Regions from separate parts of the Homo sapiens genome. Here regions 1, 2, 3, 4, 5 and 6 are each linked to region 7. Evidence: fine-mapped expression QTL. A gene starts in region 7. Each other region holds a variant in brackets. All regions are shown on one strand. Distances are between the middles of the regions.

Evidence for each region. PIP is the estimated chance that this variant, and not a neighbour inherited with it, causes the effect.
Region 1: its variant is fine-mapped to the expression of IMMP2L in spleen (GTEx, PIP 0.97).
Region 2: its variant is fine-mapped to the expression of IMMP2L in blood mononuclear cells (TOPMed, PIP above 0.99).
Region 3: its variant is fine-mapped to the expression of IMMP2L in whole blood (TOPMed, PIP 0.99).
Region 4: its variant is fine-mapped to the expression of IMMP2L in whole blood (TOPMed, PIP above 0.99).
Region 5: its variant is fine-mapped to the expression of IMMP2L in whole blood (TOPMed, PIP above 0.99).
Region 6: its variant is fine-mapped to the expression of IMMP2L in fibroblasts (GTEx, PIP 0.91).

What each region holds. Positions count from the first base shown.
Region 1 is chr7:110,635,300-110,639,474 of GRCh38, forward strand. No RefSeq gene overlaps it. Among named protein-coding and RNA genes, the nearest start is that of LRRN3, 450 kb to the right of the region's middle. The variant C/A (reference allele first, on the strand shown) is at 1,691.
Region 2 is chr7:111,276,019-111,280,193 of GRCh38, forward strand. The region is part of intron 3 of IMMP2L (inner mitochondrial membrane peptidase subunit 2); the gene reads right to left. Among named protein-coding and RNA genes, the nearest start is that of LRRN3, 190 kb to the left of the region's middle. The variant T/C (reference allele first, on the strand shown) is at 2,433.
Region 3 is chr7:111,385,632-111,389,806 of GRCh38, forward strand. All of the region lies in intron 3 of IMMP2L (inner mitochondrial membrane peptidase subunit 2), which reads right to left. It overlaps LOC124900232 (a long non-coding RNA gene), which reads right to left. Exons shown (of 2, transcript XR_007060475.1): 2 at 1-1,432. Among named protein-coding and RNA genes, the nearest start is that of IMMP2L, 170 kb to the right of the region's middle. The variant C/T (reference allele first, on the strand shown) is at 1,712.
Region 4 is chr7:111,224,707-111,228,881 of GRCh38, forward strand. All of the region lies in intron 3 of IMMP2L (inner mitochondrial membrane peptidase subunit 2), which reads right to left. LOC124901725 (a long non-coding RNA gene) reads right to left here. Exons shown (of 2, transcript XR_007060477.1): 1 at 1-4,175. Among named protein-coding and RNA genes, the nearest start is that of LRRN3, 140 kb to the left of the region's middle. The variant C/G (reference allele first, on the strand shown) is at 1,673.
Region 5 is chr7:111,233,973-111,238,147 of GRCh38, forward strand. All of the region lies in intron 3 of IMMP2L (inner mitochondrial membrane peptidase subunit 2), which reads right to left. LOC124901725 (a long non-coding RNA gene) reads right to left here. Exons shown (of 2, transcript XR_007060477.1): 1 at 1-4,175. Among named protein-coding and RNA genes, the nearest start is that of LRRN3, 140 kb to the left of the region's middle. The variant C/A (reference allele first, on the strand shown) is at 2,292.
Region 6 is chr7:111,201,971-111,206,145 of GRCh38, forward strand. All of the region lies in intron 3 of IMMP2L (inner mitochondrial membrane peptidase subunit 2), which reads right to left. LOC124901725 (a long non-coding RNA gene) reads right to left here. Exons shown (of 2, transcript XR_007060477.1): 1 at 1-4,175. Among named protein-coding and RNA genes, the nearest start is that of LRRN3, 110 kb to the left of the region's middle. The variant A/G (reference allele first, on the strand shown) is at 1,769.
Region 7 is chr7:111,560,106-111,564,280 of GRCh38, forward strand. It overlaps IMMP2L (inner mitochondrial membrane peptidase subunit 2), which reads right to left and starts at 2,387. Exons shown (of 6, transcript NM_032549.4): 1 at 1,746-2,387. RefSeq lists a silencer at 1,919-2,548.

The DNA of each region.
Region 1 (4,175 bases), 920 kb before region 7:
TGTTGTTGAGAACCCCTGGATCCCACACGGAAGCCACTGAGCCAGGCCAATATTTTTGAGAATACATATTTTCTTGGCTCCCAACAGTCACAGGATCCCTGCCTGAAGTTTAAAAAAAAAAGTCTAAACAATTTTTTAGACAAAAGGATATATTTTGTCTGAAAAAATAAAGGCAAAGGATACATTTCCTGGGAGTAGAAAAACAAAATTCCAGTGGAAGATAATGTTCAAATTCAATTCAAATTCTGTCTGACAAGGTTTGAATTATAACAAAGACTTTACTACTTCTCAGCTGCCATCTTTTAATTAGAATTGTGCTCTCAAAAGATATGTACGTGGTCCTCCATTTAGAAGACTGGAATAATATTTTGACACACTTGCAAAAATCATGTGGATAGACAGTACCAGGAAGGGGGTTAATTTTAATTATCTATCAACTGCAAATTACTATAATATAGGATACATGTTTCTACCTCCATTATGTATTTTTAGAAATTCATTATTATTAACTGCTGGACAGAAGGACTTCTGAAATGCTGAGCAATGGGCTCTATATAAAACTTCTCATTGCAAATTCATAGCCCTGAGGGAGTGTTGGTGTTGGTATTGTTGTTTTTACTGCAGAGTGAAGAATCTGAGTTGTAGGTAAGTTTTGTAACTTACTGGTTATGGGCCTCTAACCCCTAATGTGATGGTATTTAGAGGTGAGCCTTTAGGAGGTAATTAGGTTTAGATGAGGTTAATATGAGGGTGGGTCCCTTATGATGGGATTAGTGCCCTTCTAAGGGGAAGACAGAGAGCACACAGCAGAAGTCCACTGCTGTCTGCAAGCCAGGAAGCAGGCCCTCACCAGGGCCTGTGCTAGCAACTTGATCTTGGACTTCCCAGCCTCCAGAACTACTTGTTGTTTAAGCCACCCAGTCTATGTTATTTTATTATAGCATCCTGAGCCAAGACATTGCTCAACTTTTTCCAGAACTTAATTAGTAGCCAGGCTCTTTAACAGAAAATATACACCAGTTCAAAAGTACCACACTGCTTTATGTTCCACATACCATATTGGTTAACCATAATGCACTAGGCAATGGCATCCGAAGGTCATTGGCCTATCTTGAGATATCTTTATAGATTAGGAAATAAAAGTTTAAAAATAAGGGCTGAAAAACTGTGCTGTTGGTAGAGACTTAGATAATCAAATAGCCTTAACCAAAGTTTCTGATCAGTTCACCTGATAAGTCTCTTGACTTATTTTTCTGTCTACTAAACTATAAGGCATTTGAGGGTAGGACCCATCTAATGTAATAACATATGCCAGTTATTTAATATTTAGTGGCTGCAAAGTGTTGTTCTAAGTGATTTGCATGTATAAAGTCATTTAATCCTGACAACTCCATTAGATTTTTAATTGAAAATTAGACTATCAATTAATTGTTACCATTATTATTCTTGTTTGATAGATGGAGAAACTGCAACAGAAATATTAAATAATGGCTAGAGGAACTAGTAAGAGACAGGGCTGGGGATGAATGAAAGTAGCCCGGCCCCAGAGCTCCATCTCAATCCTCTGTCTCATTCACTGCTAAATCCCTAGTGCTCAGCCCAGAGCCCAAGAGTTGGCTTCACTAAGTGTGCATTGAATGCATACCTAATAGCCATTATTATTAGATGAATGCCAAAATCAGTCACATAA[C/A]CTTACTATGCATTAAAACAAGAAAGTATTCAGGAAATGGGGCTGAAATCTTGTCATTTAGGAACAGAGGAGGGAACTGGTAGAGGAGTGAAGGTTCGCTGGGGGTGGACTGGCTGCAATGCAGGAGGAAATAGCATCACTGCATTTTGACGTTATTTCTTGTAAGACTGATCTACCAGTATGACCACTAGCATTTTATGATTTTTAAGTGTCAGAATTTATTTTTGTAAAAATCAGAGAATCCATGTTCTTAAGGCATTTCAAATATGAAATGTATGAACTCTGTCAGACATCCCTCTGGCCTCCACTGGCTCCTGTGACTTTGGTACCCAGTTCCCACGGGCTTCTAAGCTACAGGCTCCAATGCAGCTGGTCCCATGGGACGCCAGCCCCTTCCTGCCAAGCATAGCTCCATCAAAGGAGCCTTTAGAGCCACTGCCTCTGGGAAGCTCCTCTGCTCTCACTGGGGCTGGCGGCCCTAAGACACAGCAGTTTTGATGTCTCGCCCTCACATGGAAGGTGGCTAACACTTGGCCCGATGCCCACTTGTCCCCATGACATATCCACCAGCCTCAGAGGAGCTACCTGTCAGGCCCAAGCTCTTGTTTGTTTGCAGAGAAGGTGCAATTGGGGACAAGAAAAGGTGGGAGCTGTAGGAGTAGAAAGGTCTGGGACAGTGGATGGTAAGAGCAGTAGGCAGGGAAGGAAAAGGGGGAAGGATTTGAGAGACCAAATGAGATTAAATGAAGCCACCAACCTAAGTCAGATATAAGGAATTACAGTCATAAAAGTATCATATGTGATAATTTAAAAAACCCACAATGTATAGGAATATACAGGAAACTTGCTACTAAAGGAAAGAACTTGAACTACACGTAAAAAAAAAATTGTCAACACCTCTTAGAAAAAAAAATAGATCACATTTCTTTATTTCAGAAGGCAGAAGAAATTGCAGAGAGAAAAATTTTAGATCAATGTAAGGAAAGTTGTCAAACAAATAATCCTATCTTAAATTTAATGGGCTGTCTATATGACAACACATTTTCCATCACTTGGGCATTTAAACAAAGCTTAGATAATTACTTCTCAGGGATGATATATATTGATAAAGACCTTCTAAATTCCTTAAATCAAATGTCCAGTATTCTTCCCCTCAATTGCAATAACTGCAAAGACGACCTTTCTGCAATCCCTCATAGCAAGAGAATTTTAAGTAGAAGGACTAAAAACCTTTATAAGATAAATAATGTTAGAAGAACTAAGGGCATAAAAGGGAATCTTAAAATATTTTAAATATCAGCAAAAACTGAGACAATAAAAACCCACAAACAAAGCAAATAAAGATGTTATCTTTAATTTTTATATAACTTAAATAGTAAGAATGGGTTCTGAGATGAAATTTTCAGACCATCCATTCCTCAGGATCTCCCTTTTTATTCATTGTCAAAGACATGCTTAAAATCAATTGTGCTCTGTTTGAGGAAAGCATTGCATTGTGAGAGGCATTTTCCCTCACCTTACCCTCTCCCATCTTTTCTTCCCTCCAAGAGGTCAATGCCTTTTGGATTTTATGAATCAGAGTTATGAGCTTGGACTCCCAAGTCCAACTCTACCGCATGGCTGCAGGATGACGAAGACTTCAAATAACATGCTACTGTTGCCTTATTCAGCATATCTGCTCTAGCAGCAAATGAGTGTTTTCAAATCTCTAAACACAGGATATTCACCAGGAGATTCTAGAATGTGGCAGGATACTTGGACTTGGCTCCCCAGCCTGTTTTTGAGGACTCCTTCCTGACTTCTGCTCCTCTCACTATACAGGAAGGCCATTCTGAGACCCAAATTACTCACCTTCTGCCTTCCTTTTCCTCTCTGAAAACCACTGCAATAAACCTCTACTCCTAGTTTTCCATGTGCTCAATCCCCATTTTCTTCTCCCAAATCCCCAATCCTCCCCTTTCTATTATTTCCCATAGTGGACAGTTAATATTTGCTTATCCTTAGAACAAAATTCTCTTGATTGCTAAATAGGTATAGAAAAGTAAATTTGACTATGCTAGACTTTTGTTTCAGGGAAATTCATGGTCAGAAAGAAGTCATATACTATATGCACTTTCCCAAAGAGACACATTTCAATTACGTTCTTCATTTTGGTAAAAATGTAATGATCATTCACTACAAATTATAATTAACTCTTTAGAACAGGAGAATTTCTTCTCTTTAAAAGAAAAGCTTTAATATGAACTTTTAAATAATAGCACACAGTTATTTCTATAAATTGATTAAGAATAAGTGACCAATAGAAAAAATACATACTCATGAGCTGGACCCAAGTTTAAAGGTTATATTTAATGAAGGTAAGGGGGCAAGAGAGGGACAAGATTTTTTGAGGAAAACAAATCTTTCCTTTCAGTTTCATGTTAAAAAATTACCATCAGAATTGTTTGTTATTATTACTTAATAAACTTTAAAAATGCATGTATAT
Region 2 (4,175 bases), 280 kb before region 7:
AGATGCCTCTTATTTCTTAATACTTTCAACTTTTCCCCATTAAGTATAATGTCAGCTGTGGGTTTGTCTTATATTTTCTTTATTATGTTGAGATATGTCCTTCTAAGGCCTAGTCTTTTGAGGATATTTATCATGAAGGGGTGCTGAATTTTACTGAAGGAAATTTTTGCATCTATTGAGACGATCATATGGTTTTTGTCCTTAATTCTGTGTCTGTAATGTATCAGATTTACCAATTTACATATATCGAAGCATCCTTGCATCCTTGAGATAAATCCCACATGATCATGGTATATTAATCTCTTTGATGTGCTGTTGTGTTCTATTTGCTAGTATTTTGTTGAGGATTTTGTGTCTATGGTCATCAGAGATTTTGGTCTGCAGTTTTCTTTTATTGTTGTCTCCTTATCTGGCTTTGGGATGAGGTTGATGCTGGCCTCATAGAGTAAGTTAGGAAGAATTCCCTCCCCCTCAATTTTCTGGAATAGTTCCAAGAGGATTGGTATTAGTTCTTCTTTATTATTTGGTAGAATTCAGCTGTGATCCCATCTGATCCTGGGCTTTTACCAATGTCATTTTTCACAGAATTAGAAAAAAAAAATCCTAATATTCATGTGGAACCGAAAAAAAAAAAAAAAGCCAAAGTAATCCTAAGGGGAAAAAAAGCTAGCTGCATCACACTACCTGACTTCAAATTATATTACAAGGCTATAGCAACCAACAGAGTATGGGACTGATATTAAAATAGATACCAAGATGAATGGAACAGAATAGAGAACCCAGAAATGAAGCCACATACCTACAACCAGCTGATTTTCAACAAAGTCAACAAAAATATACACTGGGGAAAATGCCACCTTATTTAATAAATGGTGCTGGAAAAAATGAATAGCCACATGCAGAAGAATGACTGGACCCATACCTCCTTTCACCATCCACAAAAATTAAGATGGATTAAACACCTAAATGTAAGATCTGAAACTATGAAAATCCTAGAAGAAAACTTGGGAAAAACTCTTCCGGACATTGGCCTAGGCAAATACTTTATGACCAAGTTCTCAAAAGCAAAAGCGACAAAACTAAAAATAGACAAATAGGATTTAATTAAACTAAAAAGCTTCTGCACAACAAAAGGAACAATCAACAGAGTAAACAGACAGTCTATAGAATGGGAAAAAATATTTGCATTTGACAAAGGGCTAATATCCAGAACCTACAACGAACTCAAACAACTCTACAAGATAAAAAAAAAATTAAAAAGTGAGCAAAGGAATGAACATTTTCCAAAAGACGTACAAGCAGCCAACAAACACACACAAAAAAATGCTCAAAATCACTAATCATCAGAGAAATGCAAATTAAACCCACAATGAGATACCATTTTACACCAGTCAGAATGACTATTAAAAAGTCTAAAAACACTGTAATTCTGGCTATTCAGGTGGCTGAGGCACAAGAACTGTTTGAACCCAAGAGGCGGAGGTTGCAGTGAGCCGAGATTACTCCACCACACTCCAGCCTGAGACAGACAGGGACCTTGTCTCATTTAAAAAAAAAAAAAAAAAAGTCTGAAAACAACAGATGTTGGCAAAGATGCAGCAGAAAAGGGAACGCTTGTAGGAATTTCAGTACAACCTTTATGGAAAACAGAATGGAGATTACTCAAAGAACTAAAAATAGAACTACTATTCCATCCAGCAATCCCACTACTGGGTATCTACCCAAAGAGAAAGAAATCATTATATAAAAATGGTAACTGTAATTTGTGTGTTTATTGCAGCACTATTCACAATAGCAAAGCTATGGAATCGACCTAAGTGCCCATCAGCAGAAGACTGGATAAAGAAAATGTAGTATATGTAACACTACATTATGCTATTCAGCCATAAAAAAGAATAAAATCATGTCTTTTGCAGAAACATGGGTGGAACTGAAGGCCATTATCCTTAGTGAAATAACTTAGAAAGTCAAATACCACATGTTCTCACTTATAAGTGGGAGCTAAACAATGGGTACATATGGACCGTGGAGTAAAAGACACTGAAGACTATGAAAGGTGAGAGGATGGGAGAGGGGTGAGGGCTAAAAAGCCACCTGTTGAGTACAATACTCAATATTTGGGTGATGGGTACACTGAAAGCCCAGACTTCACCACTACACAACACATACATGTAAAAAACTTGCACTTGTATCCCCAAATATACAAACAAATAATTTCTTTGAAAAGTTTTAACATACACATTTACAGTGCTTCTCAACAATTTCTGCCCTATGGTATATAGAGAAAATTATACTCTTTATATGAGACATGAGTAAACATGGTTTGTATGTGCAGCTGGAGTGAACTAGCCTGGGGGCTCCAGCCACTCTCAAACTCTTCATCTCTTCTCCACTCCCAACAATTGTTTTTGTAAAATGACACACTTTTATTG[T/C]CAAAAAAACACAGTCAGATCAGATAGTTTTAAAAATGAATGTCACCATTTAGAGATAACCATTGTCAATGCTTCACTAAAACATCATTCCAGTTTCTCTCTACACATATACAGACACATCAGTTGCACACCCCAGTTGTGAAACTCAGTAATAAGGCATGATTTACACATATTTGTATTAACGCTCCAACTGAAGACTTTTTCATCTTTAAGCCCTGAAAGTGAGAAAGGAAAACCTAATAAAGTATGATCTTTTGTTAATAACATGTTTTATAATTTTCTAGCTCATATATATTGTTCTTGCTCTACCTTCCCCACATACACAAGTAATCTAGTTTTCTGTGATCAAAACTATTTCCTTGAAATCTACACCCAACTTGTACCCAGAAATTAGATTTAAAACTCTACCTCTAATCCAACTTTTAAGATATCTTGTTCTTAACAGAATTAGAAATATTCATTTTAATGGTTTCTAAGTCATCAGTTCTATGAGAATGAAATATTTTCCCAATCCTTAAGACATGAAACATGAAAAAAAAAATTTCAACCACCCAAATAATCCATAAAAATCAATTAACCTAAGTAGTCTATTGAGAGCAGGTCCTCTGTGCAGTTTTGATAATCACAGACATTGAAAAACATTATTGTATTTGATTTTACTTTTTATCTCCCAATAACAAATCTTATACAGCAGAGGCTATTTTATGGAAGTGATAAGGTTTACGCCAGATTTTCAAAATTGGGTAAAATGTATAAAACAGAAGAATAAAAGCAAAGTTGGAACTAATGTGGTCTTAGCCTGATTCAAAAAGCTCACTGTAATGGGTTGAATAGTGAACCCCCAAAATGATATGCCGAAGTGCCAACTTCCAGAAACTGTAAATATGACCTTATTTGGAAAAAGCTTTTTTGTAATTAACTTAGGATCTTGAGATAAGAGTACTGTGAATTAAGATGGGCCCTAATCCAAAGACAAGTCCGTTGAAGAGAAGGAGAAACAAACAGAAAGACAGAGAAGACCATGTGAAGACTGAGGCAGCAACTAAAAAGCTATTTCTACTAGCCAAAGGATGCCATCTTGAGATCCTAAGTGAATTACGAAAACCCTTTTTCTAAATATTATTGTCTCAATTTTACAGTTTTGTCATCTATGAAACTAAGGCAAGATTTCTCTGACTTGATATCACATAGGAAGGGACAAAGCAAAGATCTGAACTCAGGAAGTCGGGTGCAAAAACATGTGCTTTTAATTACTATATTATAACCTCTTTTGCTTGAAGAACAAAGTGGACCTTGGGGTGTAAAGGAAAATAAACAGACATATAAAGAGGCCAGGTTACAGAGACTTCAAAATACAAAGGATTTTGTCCATGATGCAGCATATAGAGAACAAACATTTCGGGCTTTTAATGCATTGCCCAGTTCATTGCATTGACTCCATCTCCAACCTCTATCTTGACCTATCCAGTTTTCTCCATCTTTAATGCTGACTAACCCACTAGTGTCAACCTTCTTAGTAGTCTCCTACTTCTACTCTTGCCTATTCAAACTATTCTCCACAAATAAGCCAGGATTTATCTATCTTTTAAAAACAAGTCAACTCACTCCTCTTAACACCATCAATGACTTCACAGGACTCTTGAAACAAAATAAAACTCCTTGCCATACTCTAGCAAGGCCCTAAATGATCTGGCTTTCCCTTCGACATCGTCTCATTATTCTCATCCATCATTATGTTTTAGC
Region 3 (4,175 bases), 170 kb before region 7:
TCATTGTGGTTTCTACCATATAAACGTCATTTTACTCTACTGGTTACTTGGCTGTCATAAGACAGAAAATGAGCTGCCATAAGAAAAGCTGATGGAAAAGGAAAAAAATTACAAATATCTGATCCCATACCCAGGTCACTGTCTTCATCTAAGGCATAATTTATCTTTTCCAATGAAATATGTGTACATCTCAATTAATTATCCACTTACCCTCTACTAATCAGAAATAAGATTTGGTTCAGTAAGGCGGGGTGAAGGAATAAACTCAACCTACCAATTGCTCCACATGAATTTTTTTTTTTAATAGAGGCAGGGTCTTACTCTGTCACCCAGGCTGGACTGTGCAGCCTCCAACTCCTGGGCTTAAGCCTCCCGAGTAGCTAGGACTACAACCACATGCCACCACTCCCAGCTAATTTTTTTTTTTTAAGAAACAGGGTCTCGCTCTGTTGTCCAGGCTGGTCTTGAACTCCTGGCCTCAGACAAACCTCCCACCACAGCCTCCCAAAGCAGTGGGATAATAGGCATAAACCACCACTCCCAGCCTGCTCCACATGATTGATAAATAACCTGATATAATAATCTAGACAAGTCAATCTTTGCTGAATAAATAACTTCCCCATGAGTAATCCTTCCTATGCCCAGTTTTCCCCAATCCTTAATATCATTGCTCTTTTTAGACTCATACATTCATTCACTTAACAAACATAAACTGAATGTTTAAGATAAGGCAAATACTTTGTATGACTGGTTTTCTATTTGAAAATAGAGTGTGTGACTATACAAATACATATATACATAAAGGTACATCAATTTATATACATTGGCCCTATGTAACCCCCATTTGAGAATATTTCTAAGCATGCCAGCTACTCAAATTCAAGTGTGAAGGTATGTGTATTTGGGTGTGTGTGAATGAATGTATGTGAGAGACAAAGGCAGACAGAGAGAGGGAATGGATAAGAAGCAAGTAAAGTTACAGCAGACAAGGACATGAAAACTCATAAAAGACTCATGATAAACTGTAAATACATTTAAAGAAAAAGAATAACACAAGCCTTCACTCCCCTTCCCTGTGCGATCATAATCACTGCCCATCAACTTCTCTGTCCATATCATGTGTGCTCCCTGTGTTCCTTGAAGGTTATGTATAACCAAGATCTACCTTTAATGTGTTTGGCAAAAATATCTGTGCCATAAACTATTAGCTGACAAGCAATTATATTCTACCTTGTAAAAGAAAATTAGGCATAAAATAACCCCACAAAAAGAAGAGAATGACTGTTTCACAAAAGAGGCAAAAGAGATTTAAACAAGATAATACCATAAGTTTCTATCTCACCATCCATTAATTTTAAATTTGATTTTGCTTCTTATATCACATAGCACTTATTCAAAAATAGCAGAAGAATACTTCTATCTATCTGTTGTCCTGTAAAAAGAAAAGAAAATACTATTATTTGTATTTCTTGTTCAAACACTCTAAGGATAAAAGTACTGTTTTCAAAAATGATGAGGTTCCTGCAGATAACATTTACCCACAGGATTTGAGGCTTTTTTGTGACATAAAGTGCAGAGTACTTTGAGGATGGTTACAGATGCAATGGCACAGAAAAGGCTTTTAACTTTGGCTCATTTCCTCTGACCACCATGTCTCCATTCTAAATTACAACCTCTCAAGCTACAGATCCTTTAAAACTAGCTTTTAAAC[C/T]AGCTTTCTGTGGTATCATCACAAAATAAGAACACTTTGTTACTTGAAAATAAAAGCACAAAATTATTGGACTCAATAACTGTTCTCATTATTGCAAACCAATAAACAAGGTTCAACAAGAACTCGTTTTAGCTATTGCTTATCAAGCTGCCAAAAAATAAATCCAAAAGAAACCAAAGAAAAACCTGCCTTAACAATATAGATGGTTTCTTATTCATAAACTATCTTTAACATCAAAAATGGCTAGCATGTATGCCAGTGTTATTGCCTTGCATAACAGAATCTTAAGCTAAGCACTAAAGTTCTGTCATTCACATCTAGAATAATAATTTTTTTTACAAAAACTAAAATACGGCCAGGCGCAGTGGCTCACACCTATAATTCCAACACTTTGGGAGGCCAAGGTGGGCAGACAACGAGGTCAGGAGATCAAGATCACCCTGGCCAACATGATGAAACCTCATCTCTACTAAAATACAAAAAATTAGCCAGGCATGGTGGCGCGTGCCTGCAGTTCCAACTACTCAGGAGGTTGAGGCAGGGGAATCACCTGAAACCAGGAGGCAGAGGTTGCAGTGAGCCAACATCACACCACTGCACTCCAGCCTGGAGACAGAGCAAGACTCTGTCTTTAAAAAAAAAAAAAAAAAAAAAAAACTAAAATACTAAATAACCCCATTTTTAATAGAAATTTGTTTTATGATATAACCCATACCAAATGCTACCTGCTCAGCCAAATCACTTTTAGAGTCCACACAGCCCTTTATATCTAAAAGAAAATAATAAAAGTGCTAGGAAACAAGAAGTATCTGGGCCAGTTACCCTTGGTTAGGACTGAGAAATTAGCTGGCACAGACAGCAAGACCGGGACCAAATATTCAACCAGTTGGCTGGGGATAGTGGGTTGAGGTCAAGGAGATGACCCATACAGCTGTAAAATTAAGTATAAAAAGGGGAAATTGGGCAAACAAATAAATATACTGAGGATAATGGGAGCCAGGTTTTCTAATGTTGGAGAAGGAACCTACAAGTACAAAAAGGGGAAGGAAGAATAAACCCTGTCGTTTGGAATCGAGGAGATCAGTGGGAACATATATTTTTAGATAATCACTGATCAATAGATAGATAGATGGAGATGTATATGTATATATGTACGTACATATATACATGTAATGTACATATGTATTAGTCCGTTTTCATGCTGCTGATAAAGACATACCCAAAACTGGGAACAAACAGAGGTTTAATTGGACTTACAGTTCCACATGGCTGAGGAGGCCTCAGTATCATGGCAGGAAGCGAAAAGTACTTCTTACATGGCAGTGGCAAGAGAAAAATGAGGAGGAAGCAAAAGCAGAAACCCCGGATAAACACATCAGATCTCGTGAGACTTATTCACTACCACGAGAATAGCACAGGAAAGACCGGCCCCCATGATTCAATTACCTCCCCCTGGGTCCCTCCCACAACACATGGGAATTCTGGGAGATACAACTCAAGTTGAGATTTGGGTGGGGACACAGCCAAGCCATATCAATATATGTATGTACATGCATATATGTACATACATATATACATATAATGTGCAAATCTGTATTTCCTAGGTTTGTTCACTGAAAAGATCTAGAAGCAAAGACACCTCAGTAGTAAAGAGCAATCTTAGACCCAGTAGCAAAGAGCAACCTTAGCATCCACTAAAAGAAACCAGAAGTCTTTGGTAGCGCCAGGGCTGGGGCAAGAAAAGTACAAGATAAGCTTGAACCACACCTTTTAACATGAGGAACTGAGAACATAGCATCGCTTTTGTGGTAATAATGCCCAAAATAACAACTTATTCATAAGGAAACATCAGATAAACCCAAGTAGAGAAACAAAACATAGCTGTACTCTTCAGAAATGTCAAAATCATTAAAGATAAGGCAAGATTAATGAAGATTCCAGATTGAAGGAGAGCAAAGAGCCAGGGCAGCTAAATACAAGGCTTAGATTCTGGACATATAAAGAACATCATTGGGACAGTTAGTGAATTATGAATTGAATCTGTGTAATAGACGGTAATATTGTATCAATACTAGTTTCCTATTTTGGTGGTTATACTGAGATTATGTAGGGAAATGTCCTTATTTTTAGAAAATAGTCACTGAAGTACTAAGGGAGTACTGGGGCATCATGTCTCCAATGTACTCTCAAGCCAAAAAAAAACTTCAAAATAATAATAATGTGTAATGGTAAGAGGAGAGGGAGGGCAGATTGAGAGAGAGAGAGAGAATATGATAAAGCAACTATAATAAAATTTTAATATTGAAAATTTGAGTGAAAATCATATCAGTTCTTTGTACTATTCTTGCAATGTTTCTACAAGCTTGAAATCATTGTCAAATGATTAAAAAACAAAGACATGTTTGGCCTTAAATGCCCATATAACTATTAAGAAAAACCTTAACTCTCTATGAAGGGCCACAAT
Region 4 (4,175 bases), 340 kb before region 7:
TATTAAAATGTTATTTACCCTTTTTGATATGTTAATATTTTCACAGATGATATGAAAGCACTGGTGGGAGAACTGCTAGCAGCTTAGCATAAATCAAAGCCTTGGCACCAAACTTTACTGAGTCATTGTACTCTTCACTGCCATGCACTGTCATTAAAGCAAGCAAAGTCTGTTTTATTTAAGAATGTCTTCGATGAAGGAGTAAAAATCTTAGTTCCATTATATCTCAAATTAAATGTGTTTTATTATTCTGTGTGGTGAAATGGCAAATACACATAAAGCACTCACTGCAACTAGAGTACAATGGTTGTTTAAGGAACAGCACTCCTGGTTGTTTCCGTTGCAAGCTGAACTAGCCACTTTTTTCCACCAAACACTTTTTACTTAAAGGGACAACTGACAGATAAGCTATTATTATTTAGACTTGGATTTTTGGCAGACATTTTCACAAAAATGGACAAAGTTAATCTGTCACTTCAAGGAAAACAACTGACAGTATTCATTACCAATGATAACATTAAAGCTTTCAAGCAAAAAGTAGAAGTTTGAAAAACTTACATCTGTCACTGTGACAGTTATAAGAAAGCCTTATATTGCCACTGTAAGAGCTTACTAATATCATGACTTTTCTGATGCAGCAGTAGTAATATTAATAAATGGGATTTGTTTATGCTGTATAATAAAATGCATAAACATTTGGAAGATATATAACCCAATGAATCTATATTTTCCAAATGACCAATACATGCATGGGTAAAAGATTTATTCAAGGTGCAAGATAAACCAATGGATTTTGGAGTGAGAAAATACAAAAAGTTCATTGATATGGCATCAGATTCCACACTGTAAATAGTCTATAGGAAAGTACTACTTATTGAGTTTTGGTATAATATCAATATAATATCAAAGAAGAATGTCACAATTATCCATCAAAAGTGCTATAAAATACTCATCCCTTTTCCAGTCAAAATGGTGAGATAGAGCCAAAAAAAAAAAAAAAAAAGAATGGGTGGTTAAGTGGAGTGATGGAGTGCAAAGTAAATTATCCAATTCCATCACATGGTTCCTTAAGAAGACTTGTGCACATTACAATACATATTCTGACTTGCATGTTGTTTCAGTGTGATTTTGCTTCCAAAAGATAAGACTTGTTAAGTGTTCTTATGCCCTCAGGCTACTATAGTCACTTTATATATCCCCCTAACTGGGGATAAGCATCTCCCCTCCTGTACCCCTTTATCATCCTTAGGCAGTGGCTGGTAGGGATGGAAGTATGAACATCTACCTCATTTAATTTGGGTTTGAACAGACAAATAATTCATACTCCAGAGCTCTCATGAAGGTTTAGACTAAAGCTATCCTTGAAAAGACTTTGCCTAAAATCATACCTCTTCTTCCCCATTCCCTTTTTTTCCCATTCTGTCACTCCCTAATTGATTACTCCTTTTTTTGTTTTGTTTTGTTTTCTGAGACAGGGTCTTGCTCTGTTACCGAGGCTGAAGTATGGCACAATCACGGCTCACTGCAGTCTCGACCTCCCAGATTCAACCAATCCTCCTTTCTCAGCCTCCTCGGTAGCTTGGACTACAGCCATGTGCCACCATGCCCAGCTACATTTTATTTTACTATTTTATTTTTTTATTTTACAGACAAGGTCTCACTATGTTGCCCA[C/G]GCTGGTCTTGAACTTCTGGCTCAAGCGATCCTCCTGCCTCAGCCTCCCAAAGTACCAGGATTACAGATGTGAGCCACCATGCCTGGCTGTTTCTCACTTTCTTAATAAATTACTTGCAAACAAATCCTCATCTCAATGTCTGCTTCTGGGGAATTAAACCTCTGAGAGCTAGCAACAGGTCATTCTACTGCTTGATCATTGCGCTCTTTGATTTTCTGCTAAATGATGATCAATTCAACTACCACAGTAATGGGGGAGACAATGTAAAATTTCTCTTTATAGCAACATAATTATAGCTAATTGTGAAGTGAAATAAGAAATAAATTTTAACTCTGGCAACAATAACAACAAAAACAAAGTGTTGATTATGATCTTTGATTCATTTCCCCAAAAAGGGCATTATCAGGTACAGTATCTTTGAGTCTACAATAATTGTAACATGCTTTTTGGTAAACTGACTAGAAGGAAATGGAAGTAATATAGCAATAATACGAAGGGACAGAATGGAGAGAGCTACATAGAAAATACATGAGCAAATTTATTGTTCAAGATAATAATCAGTGGAGAAGACAAGACTGGAAATGCCAGTAAAAAGGGGAAGTGATTGGTGGATTCATATCCCTGATGAAATAGGAGGAAACAAGATAAAGAAAGAAGGCAATGGATAAGAGAAAGAATGAAAACAAATAAATTGCTCAGGTGAATAAGAAGGGGTGGGTTGAAGCTGCGTAAGGGGCTTTCAATGGTTCCAGATATCATTCTCTGGCATTGGTAGCACAGAATGCTGCACTTGCCACACACCACCACCTGGTTTCACCTTGCAAACAGCCATACAGTGCTCCATTTACACCCACACACATTTCTCACACTATTCTGCATTCTTCCATTACCACTACTTTTTTATCTCCTTCTCCATTTTCTATATTTCATTTGCTACCCGAAGTATTACTTTAAGAGATTCCCAAACTTCTTCTTCCAATCAATACATGTTCCCAGAAATCAATAAGGAAAGATGGAAGTAGAATATATTATAGGATATCTCCCTGTTTTCTTTTAAGCTTCGACTATAAGGATTAGTTATTTTTACAGCACCCAAGAGAAAACACTAGTCACAGGAAGCAGTTCCATATGAAACCAGATCTATCTAAAACTGCCTTTGCCAGTCCCAAAGGACAATGTTGAAAAGGAATCCCAAGAAATAAATGTGTCTACAAAATTCAGAGCCTATAAAGACAAAAACTGAGGAGAAACACTTAATAAAGCTACTCCCATACTCTGCATAAGCCAGAAATAAACCACTCCTAATATGGCAACCACACAATAAACATCTAATGCTCAGAATGTTTGTCAAAAGTATGTTGGTCAAATGTACTATCTTTCAACATTTAACATTTTATCAATAAAGAATTCCTAGAAACAGAATTCTGGCATCTACAAAAAATATATATATCACATAGTAACCCATTTTAAAGTTAATCCAGAGTGGTATTTATAACATTTTGAGTAAATCAATACCTTGGAATGATATTTCAAAAACCACTTCTACTATTAATCTGTTGTCTCATTAGTTGTATTTGTTACAGAACCTAATATGACAAGTTTTGATTTCGACAGCATGTAGTGATTTCAGAACCGATTCCATTGAAACCTAGCCATAGGCCACAGAAATCTATCAGAAATAATGTCAGGATTGACTTCAGATGGGCCAACCAAGAATTCCCTCATTAAGAGATTATCTGCTGTTGAAATACGTTTATGTTCATGTTTAAAACAAACATTTCTGAAACACAAAATAATTCTACTCCTCTATATTCAAGAAAAGGTACTAACCACAAGACAATAGCATATAAATAAAAGCCACAAACCTGAAAGGCTGTCAAGGTGGGGACAGGAGCACTTGGAACACAGGCTGGAATACAACATGTGTCTGGCTCAAGTACTTAACTTGATAAAGTCAAGTCTATTTCTATCAATTTGTATTAGGAGATGAATAGGTTCTCATTAAAAAAAAATGAGACTCAAAAAGAAAAACTTTTATTAAAAAAAATCAAAGGTGTCAAATCTGGAAATACCTCCCAAAAGCCAGGAAACACTGAGTTCTAAGCACAAGAACCAAGACAGCTTCCTGATGGTCCTTGAGACCAGATGGCCAAGACCAGTACAGACCCACAGGTCCCATCTCTCAAGTGTGTGTTAGAAGTGCAAGAAGACTGGGGAACTAGTCTGCAGAAGTATCCATTCCGAGAAACTGACCATACATAAAGTTTGGTGAGTTTTGTATGAAATTTCCTCTATTGGGCAATGGCAGCATTTATGCCTCTGAAACTTTGTCAAAAATGCATAAATATTCTATAGTTATTTGCAGAAGAACTACATTTAAATATAGCATATCCTATGGCTATCCATCTTCTTGGAGTTAACAAAGGGTCCCCACCATCTTAGGTGAAAGGTATTTTACAATGTTATAAAAAAAAATTAATGGATATATGTAAAAACAAAGGT
Region 5 (4,175 bases), 330 kb before region 7:
GAAATTGTTTGGAATATACAAAAAGACAACCCATTAACAAGTAACTTTAAGTAATGTAGTTGGATGGTCATTATAATACAAATGGTGCTATAAATTTCCCTTTAAGTATTGTTTTAGCTACATCCCACAAATCTTGATGTGTTTTCATTTTCATTCAGTTCAGTTCAGTATTTCCTTAATTCTTCTTTTATTTCTTTCTTAACCTATGGGTTATTTAGAGGAGAGTCATTTAATTGACAAATATGTGGAGATTTTCTACAAGTCTTTCTGTTATAGATACCTAATTTAATTTCATTAAACTCAGATAATATTCTTTGTATGATACAGATGCCAGTTACACCAGATTCATAGGGTTGTTCAGGTCTTCTATGTCTGTATCTATTTCTGTCTACTCTGTCCATCAATTACTAAGAAGGAATATTTAAATCTCCAACAAAAACTGGATTTGTGTCTTGCTCCTTGAAGTTCTTTCAGATTTTGCTTCAAGTATTTTGATGCTGTTATTAGGTACATAAATGCTGGGTTTTATGCCTTCTTAATGAACTAACCCTTCTATCATTATGAGATAATCTCTTTTTTCCCTGGATATATACAATCATGATTGGATTTGAATCTACCCTTTTGCTACTTGTTTTCTACTGCTTTTATCTGCCCTCAGCCTCTTTTCTCTCTTTTTCTGCCTCCCTTGGATTAACTGCATATTTTATATTATTCCACTTTATCTGCTTTCTTGACTTATTAGCTATAATTCTTTTAACTGTTGTTTTAGTGGTTGGTTCACAGTTTATACCTTTAATTTATCATGAACTGTCTTCAGGTAATATTATACCACATCATATATAGTATAAGAAATTTACATCAGTATTCTTACATTTCCCCCTCTCCCAGCCTTTGCACTACTACTATTATAATTTTACTTCTATATATGTCACGAAGTCCACAATATATTTTTATTATTTTTTACTTAAACAGTCAAATAACTTTAAAAGAGTCTGTAAGGGGAGAAAATTACCATTTTCAGTGTTCTTTATTCCTTTATATAGTCCAGGTTTCTAACTGATAACATTTTTCTTCTGTCTGAAGAACTTTTTTTAGCATATCTTTCAGTACAGGTCTGCCAGTGACTAATTTTTTCATCTTTACTTCATCTAAACAAGTTTTTATTTCATCTTTATTTTTGAAAGATATTTTCACTAGGTATAAAATTCCACATTGATGGCCTTGGACAGTGGCTCACGCCTGTAATACCAGCACTTTGGGAGGCTGAGGCAGGCAGATCACCTGAGGTCAGGAGTTCAAGGCCAGCCTGACCAACATGGAGAAACCCAGTCTCTACTAAAAATACTAAATTAGCCGAGCGTGGTGGTGGGCACCTGTAATCCCCGCTACTCGGGAGGCTGAGACAGGAGAATCGCTTGAACTTGGGAAGTGGAGGTCGCGGTGAGCTGAGATCATGCCATTGCATTCCAGCCTGGGTAACAAGAGCGAAACTCCGTCTAAAAAAAAAAAAAAATTCCACATTGATAATTTCTCTCTTTCTATAGTTTAAAAATGTTATTCTACTGCCTCTGTGTTGCACTGTTTCCAAAGCAAAGACTCTTAACCATCTTTGTTACTCTGTACCTGATACGTCTCTTTTTTTTGGCCTTCTTTTAAGATTTTCTCATTATCACTGGTATTAGTTTGATTATAATATGCCTCTGTATCATCTTCTTGTGCTTGGGGTTTTTTTAGTTTCTTCTGAGTTTATAGTTTTTATCAATTTTCTTTCCCACCATTTTTTCAAATATTTCAGTCTAAAACTCTCCCACTTTCCTCCTCTTCAGCAACTTGAATAACATGAATACTGAGGCACTTGAAATTGTCCTACAGTTCACTGATTGTCTCTTTTTTAAATTAGCCATTATTCTCTCTGTGGTTCATTTTGGGTAGTTTCTATTGTTATGATGTCACCTCATTAATTTCTTTCTTTGTAGACTAAACTGTCACAGATCCATCCAGCAAATTTTTTTCATCTTAGGTCCTGTAACATTCATCTCTAGAATATAGATTTAAGTCTTTTTCACATCTTCCATTTCTGTGCTTAATGTCTTCAATCTTTCCTCTCCTTTTTTGAACAAATTAAATGTGACAATAACTATTTTAATGCTTTGTCTACTATTTCTCTCATTTGTGTTTTTTTTTAACTGATTGATGTTCTCCTCATTTTGTGTCATGGTTTCCTGTGTCTTTGCATTAAAAGTAATATTTTTACTAGCTTCCAAACATGATTTTCACCTTTTGGGGTGCTA[C/A]ATATTCTTGTGTCCTGAGGAACATCCTTGAGCTTTGTTTGAGAAAACAGTTAAGTTACTTGGGAACAGCAAATCCTATAGAAGTTGGCTTTTAAACTTTGTTAGGCAAAACTGGCACAGCCTTTAATCTAGGGGTGAATATGCTCCACTACTAGGCAATATTCTTCTGGTTATTCTATCTGATGCTTCGTGAATTATGAGGTTTTCCACTCTGGCTGATATGGGAACATGAATAATTCCCAGCCCTGTATAAATTCTGAAAACTATTCCCTGTGTTCTTTTGAGGTGATTATTTCTCCAGCTTTTTGTAGGTTCCCCACATACTGATGGGTCCTCAGCTGAGGGCTGTACGAGGACCTTCTGCATATCTATATAGTTTTCTCTCTGTGCATCTTCTCTCCAGTCAGTACTCTGTCCTGCAAACTCTAGCCACCTGGACTTCCCCAGACTCCCAACTCTGTCTCGTCAACCCTAGACTACCAACATTCACCTGGGTTCTCCTCCCTGTGCTGGGCCCTGGAAAAACCTCTCAAGGCAATCAGCTGGTACAATCAAAGGGCTTACCTCATTTGTTGCCATTCTTAAAGGATCACTGTCCTGAACTGTCTGATATTTAATGTCTGAAGACTCCCTTTCATACGGTGTATCTGGTCTTTTTTGTTTGTTTCTGGTAGGAAGGCAAATCATGTTCCTGTAACCCCATCTAGGCTGAAACATTCTAATACAATTAAATGGCCATTCTCTGGGAATAGAAAGTAAGAACTTACAACAGTGACGTTTCCATAACACGGAATATATAATAATTTTCAAATGGACAAAAAAGAACAAATAATACCCAAAAGAAGAAACTTAAATATCCTAGTTGATGGAATAAATATTTCCACACCCAGATATAATGTCTCACACATAGAAGGCTCAAAATAAATACTAAATTCATAATTCCTTGCTTTGAAGCTAATTAAAATTAGAAAAGATAATTCAGTAAAAGGAAGAAGAAAACAATGCTATCCTGTGCCTTAGATACTGAGTAATTAATTCAATTTGATGTCCTATAAGAATAATTCATAAAATTGTGTATTGTGTCCTGTTTTGATTTACTGGAAGATTACAAACTAGCATGCCATATTCACATGTATTTTACCTTCATCTGAAATAAGTTAAATAAGAATGATTTTATAATTTGTTTCTTTCAAAAAGTTATTTTTTGGCAATATTTAACATAGTATAACTAAGATAAACTATATATTACCTTGTTAATATTAATGGTTAATATTAATTTTAATAACCATATATTTAGGCAAGATTTAAAAACTACAAAATAGAAGAAATTAAGCAAAAATAATTTAAAATAAAGCATTACTATGACTATAATATTTACCTATAATCATAGAAATTACACCTTATAAATGTATATAATCTGTTTCTTTAAAAAAAAAAACTTTAGGACAATTTCTACCATCATTCGGAGGGTTCAATTAGTCCAATCTGCTGTTTAAGATCTAGAGGCTTTATTCAGAGAATAATGCAAGGTCAGTCACCTTAGCTCATGAGCTCTAAAGTAAAATAGCCTTCAAGATAAATAACACCTCTATAAATTACTTATGCTCCCTAAGCTTTACTTTCCTGATCTGTAAAATGGTGATAATGGTATCTATCCAATAAAGTAGCTGTAATAATAAAAGAATGCACAAAGAGCACCTAACATAGTATTTGGCACTAAGCTGGCTATTATTTTATTAAGTTTAATGTTATGCTGCCTAGAAGTAAAGCCCTTATGTGAAGAAGATGGACTCCAAAGCTGCATTGTCTTATATCCTATTCTCAAACATTAAGGTCAGTCTTCTGGTATGTCAAGCTGTAATTTCTGAGGCTGCCATTAGTATT
Region 6 (4,175 bases), 360 kb before region 7:
TTTTAAGCTACCCAGTGCTTGTTAAAGCAGCCCAAATAGATATTAACCAAGCCACATGCAAAACTAGACATTAATTTCAAAGCCCATCTTTTGAAAAGTAGCTTCTCCATTTGACTAAACAGGTTCCTAGTGTTGTAATAAATAACATCATTTGACCCATCATTCAAAGCGTAATTGTCACTTGAGAGACAATTAAAAGTTAAATGAAGAATTTCTGTTTCCTTTGATATCAGGTTATAAATTTCCATGACACCCACTCTTGGCAGAAAAAGTCAGTGTAATTAAAATCCATTAATGGAACTTAAATTTGTCTGGAAAAGGAAGCTGTTAACTGGAGTGCTGGCCCCTAAGTCCACCATGCTAACAATTCTCTGATAACAAGTTTCAAGAATCAAAAATAACTGTACTCACGCACTCATAGCTTCCTGTCATGTAGAATTCATTGTTATGGAAGTGTCTTCTTTCTCCCATGGAGGCCTATCATTTAAACTGATCTACTCCAAATAAACCCAACGGGGCAAAGATGAGTGTCCTCACAGTTAGTTTCACTCGTGAACCCAGCCAGCAATTCAAGTGCCTCCACTTTGTTCTAGGTTGCTGCACTCTAATGATCGACAGTACAGAGGATATGTAGAATTGACTCTTCACAGAGACTGGCTAAAACAGTGCTAAAATATAACATCAAAGGAAAATATTATCCAAGCAAAAAAGGAGTTTGGGGAAATGAACTACTTCTCTTTAGAAATGAGATAAAGAAATAATAAGCAACTTTACACTATGAACTCTATCTAGTTGACCCAATAATGATTGATTAGTAGAGTAGAAACAGAGATGAGTGTGAAGGGGATGTTAGGAATTTGTAGAGACCTAGCCTCTTGAAATCCATTTTGGAAAATGATGGACAGAAACAATCAAGCAAATAAAGAAATCCATAGGTGACCACCATATTGAGAGACCAAGTTTAATATAGATGGCTTGAGTATTGATCTCTTGCCCTAAACTATAAACATTAATGGTTATGGGGAAGTAATCTACCCTCTGTAAATAGGCCATTGGCCATCCAAAAATGAGAAGTGACTATTACAACCTCCCAAACTAGTACTATCTATTCAGACACAGATGCAAGTAAAAAGAAGAAGGGTGATATTCAAAGGGATGATAGTTCATTTGAGATGAATTAATTCTTGAAACAAATGCTAACATAAAAAGAAGTCAGTCACCTTAATAGGCAAGACGGTTTTTTTTCTTTTACCATATTCATTCAATAAACATTTATTGAGGGCATCCTATATACCAGGTGCTGATCTTGGCACTGGGATACAGCAAAAAACAAAACAGATACCAGTCCCTGTTCTCATGGAGTTTTTATTCTAATGAAGGAAACAAACAGAAAAAAAAATCAAGAAAAATATATAGTATGTCAGATGGCAACAAGCGTTTTGAAGAAAATGAAGGCAAGATAGATACAGATTATTGGGGAAGGTGTTACTTTAAATAAGGCAGTCAGAAAATATAAGGCATAGGTTTTTAAAACAATAAAAAAGAAATAATGTTTGGGAAAGAGTAGCCTAGGGTAATATTACATTATTATACTGGTTCTTTTTTTTTTTTTTTTTCAATTAAAACTGAAGGACCAAAGAAACCCAAGGAATTAGATTCATGATGCTACTTGTTCTGCTTCTATCACCATCAAACATTAGGTAAAATAATTCTTCTTTGCCTTCACCTTGTCCATTTTCTGGAGGAAGGGACATAGGTTTGATACAAC[A/G]AATCAAAAAAACAAAAAAGATCCTCGGGGTATTTATGCAGTATAATAAAGAGCAAAGCAATGTAATTCCAAAAAGATAGCTCTCAAATATTTGAAAAAAAATCACTAAATCCTAAAACTTCTCTTGGAAACAATTTCCATGTCTCAAGACCATTACATTGGTTACCCTTGTAAGAATTTTCTTAGGAATAGTTTAAAATGGTTACTTTGATAATACAAAAGATCTCACACTATAGAACTGCTGAATGGACTCACAAATCACTTATACTTTTAAAGTCTAACCATCCCAATGTACACTCAGAAAGGAAATAAATCTGACATTCAAAAAATATTCTTTTACCTTTTATAGTATCTACATTTTAAAATATTATTCTAAAATAATATCATTCCTCTAGTGGATGTGAAATTATCTTGTTCTGTCCAACAATGTTTCAACGACTGAGACAAATCCTGCTGTGATTAGTTTTGAAAATACTTTCACAAGCCCACATCGCTCACTGATGCAAATGTCTCATGAGAGGCATCTACCTTTAAAATGCAATTTGGGATCTGCTTCTGTTAAAAGTAAATTACAATATGAACTACAAGGGCATAAAACAACAACAAAAAAATCTCATTTTAGTTTATAATAAAACCTAGAGCATATCATCACCTCTGCAAGACAACATATATGAAAAAATATCTGATTAAAATTTAATATGCTGTACAGTTTTCCAAGCATACTAAGTATTAAATAATGCCAGTTGATCTATATTATGTGTATTAGCACATAAGCATAAAGTAGCTATATATGATATTATAATGATCTACCAGCTCTCTTTTCCCATAAAAATTCTGTACTATACTTTGTGATTTTGAATAAAAATAAATTTTTAAAAAAATAAAACTTCTTGGCTACCACCTATATACTTGAGGTACTTTCACATTTAAATAACATGTTGAGTACTTTCATATAAGAAATGATTTAATCTTTACAAGAGCTTATGTTTTGCTATCCCCCATTTAAAGATAAAGAAGCTAAGCCTTAGAGAAGTTAACTGACCTACTGAAGATCACAGAGTAAGTGTCTACAATTCAAACTGCTTTTATTGATGTAGTCATTACTTAAACATTGTTGGGAGTATATTGGGATGTAAAGTGTGACAATATAGTAATCAGAATGAATTCTTTTTCATCAATATATCAAACTTCATACACTATCTTAGTCCATTCCTCCTGCTATAACAAAATATCAGACTGGGTAATTTATAAGGAACAGAAATTTACTTCTTACAGTTCTGGAGGCTGAGAAGTCCAAGACCAAGGTGCCAGCATTCAGTGTCTGGTGAGGGCCTTCTTGCTGTATCCTCACATTGCAGGAGGGGCAAAAAGTACACAAGGGACAACACTGTGTCTTCACATGGCAGAGGTGGAAAGCCAAAAACAAAACAAAACAGGCCTAAGACCCTCCTTTCCACCTCTTTTATAAGGTCACTAATCCCATTCATGAGAGCTCTAGCCTTATGACTTAATCACTTCCTAAAGGCTCCACCTCTTAATACTATCACATTGGTGATTAAGTTTCAACATATGAATTCTGGGGGACATATTCAGCCCATCACATACATCAATAAGTGAAGCCCTTCACAGTGTTTTTACTTGGTTTGTTGTGTATTTCTTTCAAGGAAATTATCACTGCTACAGTTGTCCAAAGAACTTCTCTATGGAGATTGTCACAGAGCCAATTTCCTAACTCCTCAGGAAAATCAGTTCCATTGAACGTCACAGGACCTTATACAGATTAAAGGTCTCTTGCTAACCAAATATATATTTTTCTCCCTCCTTCCAACTTTACCTCTTTGAATTTTTGAATTCAAGAATTAAATTTGTAAACTATCCATATCAGTAAAAAAAAACATTAAATAAAAATTAATAATAACAAAAAATATAGGAGATTTACACACTTAAAAAAAAGATTAAATTATGAACTATAGGCCATGCCATCTTGCTCCCATTCTGCTCTCTCCCAGTTGCTGCTCTAGAGCTGAGTCTAATCCTATACTGAGTTCCACAGAGGAGCCCATGGGAACAAGCTGAGGCTGTTGATGAGGGGGGCCTTATTTGATTCATATCAGGAGTCAGACTAGCTGGGGCGAGTTCATTTGTGACCTGCTTGCATTAAGTGCCAATACATAATAACATAGAAGAAACTGGCTGGAAGCCTTTATGCATCATCTACAAGTACAATCACTTTAAGTAGAGGACCGCCTGCACAGCTCCAAACCCAAGTGCACACAATTAAAACGTGCTACAAAACACAGTGTTAAATCTCTAAAGACATCCCAATGATACCAAATCTGTTTTTCTAATGGCACACAAGACTGCTTTAAAACACCTCAAACCCTATCTTATTCTTACACAGCTGTGA
Region 7 (4,175 bases):
TAGTATGTGTATATATGGAACAAAAAGTTGAAGAAACAAGTATCAAATTGTTAAGTGGTCATCTGAAAGTGGACTCATAGGAAACTCACTTATTGCCTTTTATACCCTCCCAGATTTAATTCTAAATAACTTTTTTTTGACTTTTTATTACTCTTATAACCAGAAAAAGACAAAGAACTATTCTAGCTTAGATCTTTTAAATGAGGCTAAATGCACAGAAACCCATGCAAGTTAAAAATGGTCTACTTTCGAATTTATTTTTCTAAGTACATCATCCTTTACACTCTCCATGATTCCTAATATTAGGTCCTTCTTATGGAACAACTACAAAAGTTATCCTCATCTAATTATTATACTCGTACACTGGAAAATGACTATAACATTATTCATTATAGGAAACAAATCATCAAGGTCAGCCATCCTTGTAAGTTTATTACTGAAAGTACTAGAAAGGCGGAATAATAATTCTGTTCTCCCACAACACTGTATAGACCTGCAAACCACTATGATCAGTAGTACAGGGAAAGTCTTGTAAATTAACATGTAACTATTGAGAAAATCCACAAAACTGGTGAAAGGCCTACCCCAAAACAGCCATCTCCAATACAATCTCATCATTCTCACCATCCTACTTTTATCAAAGTGCTGATAAAAGTGCGTAGCACATGGTAAGAGAGAATTAGCTATTGAATCAATGAAGGAACCCATTATCAATAAACAATCACTTCCTGTTTTCCATAAATTATGTGGTCACCTATCACTTGAGCACAAACAAATAGGCACGTTCAGGACACAGGCAGCCAGTATCAGAATAGGCAGCCTATCACAGAGGGCAATTCTACTTTTCCTGTGTAAGAATCCAAGAATGCAGTTTTACTACATTCCTGCTTGTAGCTAATCTGAATTTCAACTAATTTAAAACGGTTATTTATATGTGACATATAGGATGCATAATGAGCTCCCAACCTTGTGAGAGGAGCTGTGTTTCATTTCACCATACAGGGGAGAGGGAAGCAGTGTATTAAAGAAGTGATAGAAAAGTCCCACAGAAGAACCAATGAAATAGACCACACTGAAAATCACAGTAAGCCTCAGAGAACTTCAGTGTCCTTTTTGGCAACTTTTCAAAAGTGAATGGAATGCTTGCCAGGAGGTACCAAGAGTGAAAGCCCAGAGAAAAAGGCCCAGCCTGGTCATCTCTCTCCCCTCAAAACATCTTCTTCTGTAAGCTTGAGAGATCCCAAAGAACTTCAACACTTGTAATCTTGTTACTAACTTTATGCTTTGGGGTCCTAAAGGATTTTTTCAGGAGTACCCTTTTAAAATGTAAACATCCCTAGGGGGGTTACTGTTCATTATCAAACAGGACCTGGATTCTTTAGTGCTATGGTCTCAGGGATTAGTCAAAGCTGGCTAATAAGATAGGGGCCGGAGACAGACAACTAGAGAGGACCAATGTTCCAAGGTAAAAACAGGTAAAGGGGAAGTGCAGTTTTCTGTCGGGTCAAGGGGCTAAAAGGGATCCACATGCCCAAGCTGTTAAACTCTATAGACTGTGTGAGGCTGAAAACAGTCCGGGGCCTGGAGCCTGTGACTTTGAAGGTGGGTCCTCCAGTTCCCGATGAAAAGGTAGAATCTGGGCCCAAGTTCCCCACGAGCAGTTCTGGACATCTAGCCCTTCTCTCTCTCGCTCGCTCTCAGGATAAAGTCCTAGGTCCTTCCACCCCTGACCATTCCTTACTTACCCTTTCTCCCGCTCTTCCTCGGTGAGAAGGGGTAAGTGGTTATTTTGTGCCCTCGCCCAATTTGGCCAAAACCCTAAAAGTAAAAAACGACAGACAGACACGTGCTTTAAAATCATGTTGTTCAAGCCTGACGCTCTCCCACCACCTGCCCAACACTTCCAGGCAGAAGGCAGCGCGCCCCCACAGCGCTCCCTCACGGCCAGAGCCGGGGGCCGGACTAGGCCCCTTTGTGAGGACTGGGAGAGGGCGCGTTGTTGGGGCGCCGGCTCGGCGGGGAGGAGCGGGCCAGCTCCGGGCCAGGTGTGCCGCCTGTGGCGCCGGTTTCTCAACCTAGTTAGCCAGTGGCACCAAGAAGAGGACTAGGCTGGGGTGGCCGCCGCACGCGCCTCAGATAAACACGCGCACGCACACATGCTCGCGATCACGCAGGACTCGCGGCCGCGCACCCCTCCGCCTCCCGGCAACGCCCGCCCCGCCGGGGCCGGGGCCGACTCCCAGGGAAGGGTCCCCAGCCCAAGAGACCACCAAGGGTCGGCGGCTACGCGCCCGCCGACCCCTGCCAGCCTCACAGCCCCCCACCCGCCGCCGGACGCCGGGCGCCCGCCCTCCGCACCCGCTGCGCAGCTCAGCCCGGGGGAAGTCCCCGCGCAGACCCCGCCCTCCGCCGGCGGCAAGCTCCGCCCCGCTGCCCCGTCGCGCGCTGGCCGCCCGAAGCTCCGCCCCCGGCGGAAAACTGGTCTCTGGACCGCCCGCCCAGGTCGGGCTCAAAATGCGGCGTGGATCTGAAAGGATCAAACACAACACTAATTCAGCAAGCTATTATTGAGCACTTGCCCTAAGCTCAGCAACGTACTAATGGGGGAGACTACAATAAAGAGCCGAAAAGTCTATGAAACTGTGTCTTCAGCTCTTCCTCTTGTTTTAGAAGCCAGGAAACAGAGAACCCTCACAGTTACTTAAGTACAGGGCAGTAGTGGCAAAGCACCTCACTAGCGATCTCTGGGCAACTCTTCATTTCATTTTTTCCTACTCATGAGCACTCAGGAAAACTATTCAGTTTTGCTGCCTCCAGGTAAAACAAAGTGAGTAACACAGGACAGGCGGTTTACTTGAGAGAAACGGGAATTTCATACTGAAGCTTTTGCCCTCAAATGGTACAAACTCTTTTTTTTTTTTTCCTGAGACGGAGTCTCGCTCTGTCGCCAGAGCGACACTGCAATCTCCGCCTCCCGGGTTCACGCCATTCTCCTGCCTCAGCCTCCCTAGTAGCCGGGACTACAGGCCCCCGCCACCATGCCCGGCTAATCTTCTTGTATTTTTAGTAGAGATGGGATTTCACCGTGTTAGCAAAGATGGTCTCCATCTCCTGACCTCGTGATCCGCTCACCTAGGCCTCCCAAAGTGCTAGGATTACAGGCGTGAGCCACTGCGCCCGGCCGAATGGTACAAACTCTTAACTGGGTTATTACAACCTACAAAGAAACCTTCTTATCCATGTTATTAATTATCCTAATTCAATGTGGTTTAAAATGTTGATGAAAGTACCCAAATCATGGTGCTCCAACAAGCTGGATGCCAACCAGGTACTCGTAAGTACTTGCAATTACAGGTGCGATATTTTCATTCCATATCATCCCAAGATGCCCTTCCTTCACGTGAAGCAGCCAGAAAGATCAACTACCAGATTCCGCATGATTGAGGAATTGATAAATAGAAAGGGAAGACCGAAACCGGCCAAATTTTCCCTTCGAAGTGAAACTTGAGAAACTTGCGTGCATTTTACCTGAGTTCCTTTCTCAGCAGATAAACTGTCAGACCTCCCAGATAGTGTCAAGGAAATGCAACTTTCCAGAACACTACATCTGGACAATGAGGTGCATCTGCTGCCTGTTCACAAACTCCTCTTCCTTACCCCTCCATAATTCCCTGCTATAGAAAGCCCTAACTTTAGTCTCCCTAAGACATGTTTGAGACTGGTCTCCCTGCCAGCATCACCTGCATTAAAGCCTGTCTTCCCTGGCAATACTCGTTGTCTCAGGGACTGGTTTTCTTTGCTAGGAGCAACCCAACCTAGGCTGAAGCCCAGGCATTTAGCAGCAGTGGCACCTAGAAATACTGAACAGACATAAAATACTTTTTTTCTCCTTTTCTTACTCCTCCAGTTGTATCTTCATTATTTCTGTCTCTATTCTCCCTCTAGATACTGCCAAACTACTCTGTGCACTTTCAGATCACTTAATACTAATGTAAATAACAGACATTCTGGCACTCTTGGTTCAAAATTTATTCTAAAGGTTTAAGAATCTACTCAGGGTCTTAAATAGCCTGATAACTAAAATTCCAAGAGTTTCCTAAAGAGAGCAAAATTGCTCTCCTGTGAAGGGGATATGTCCCAGTTTTTCTTACTTGTCACTGAAATAATTACTGCAA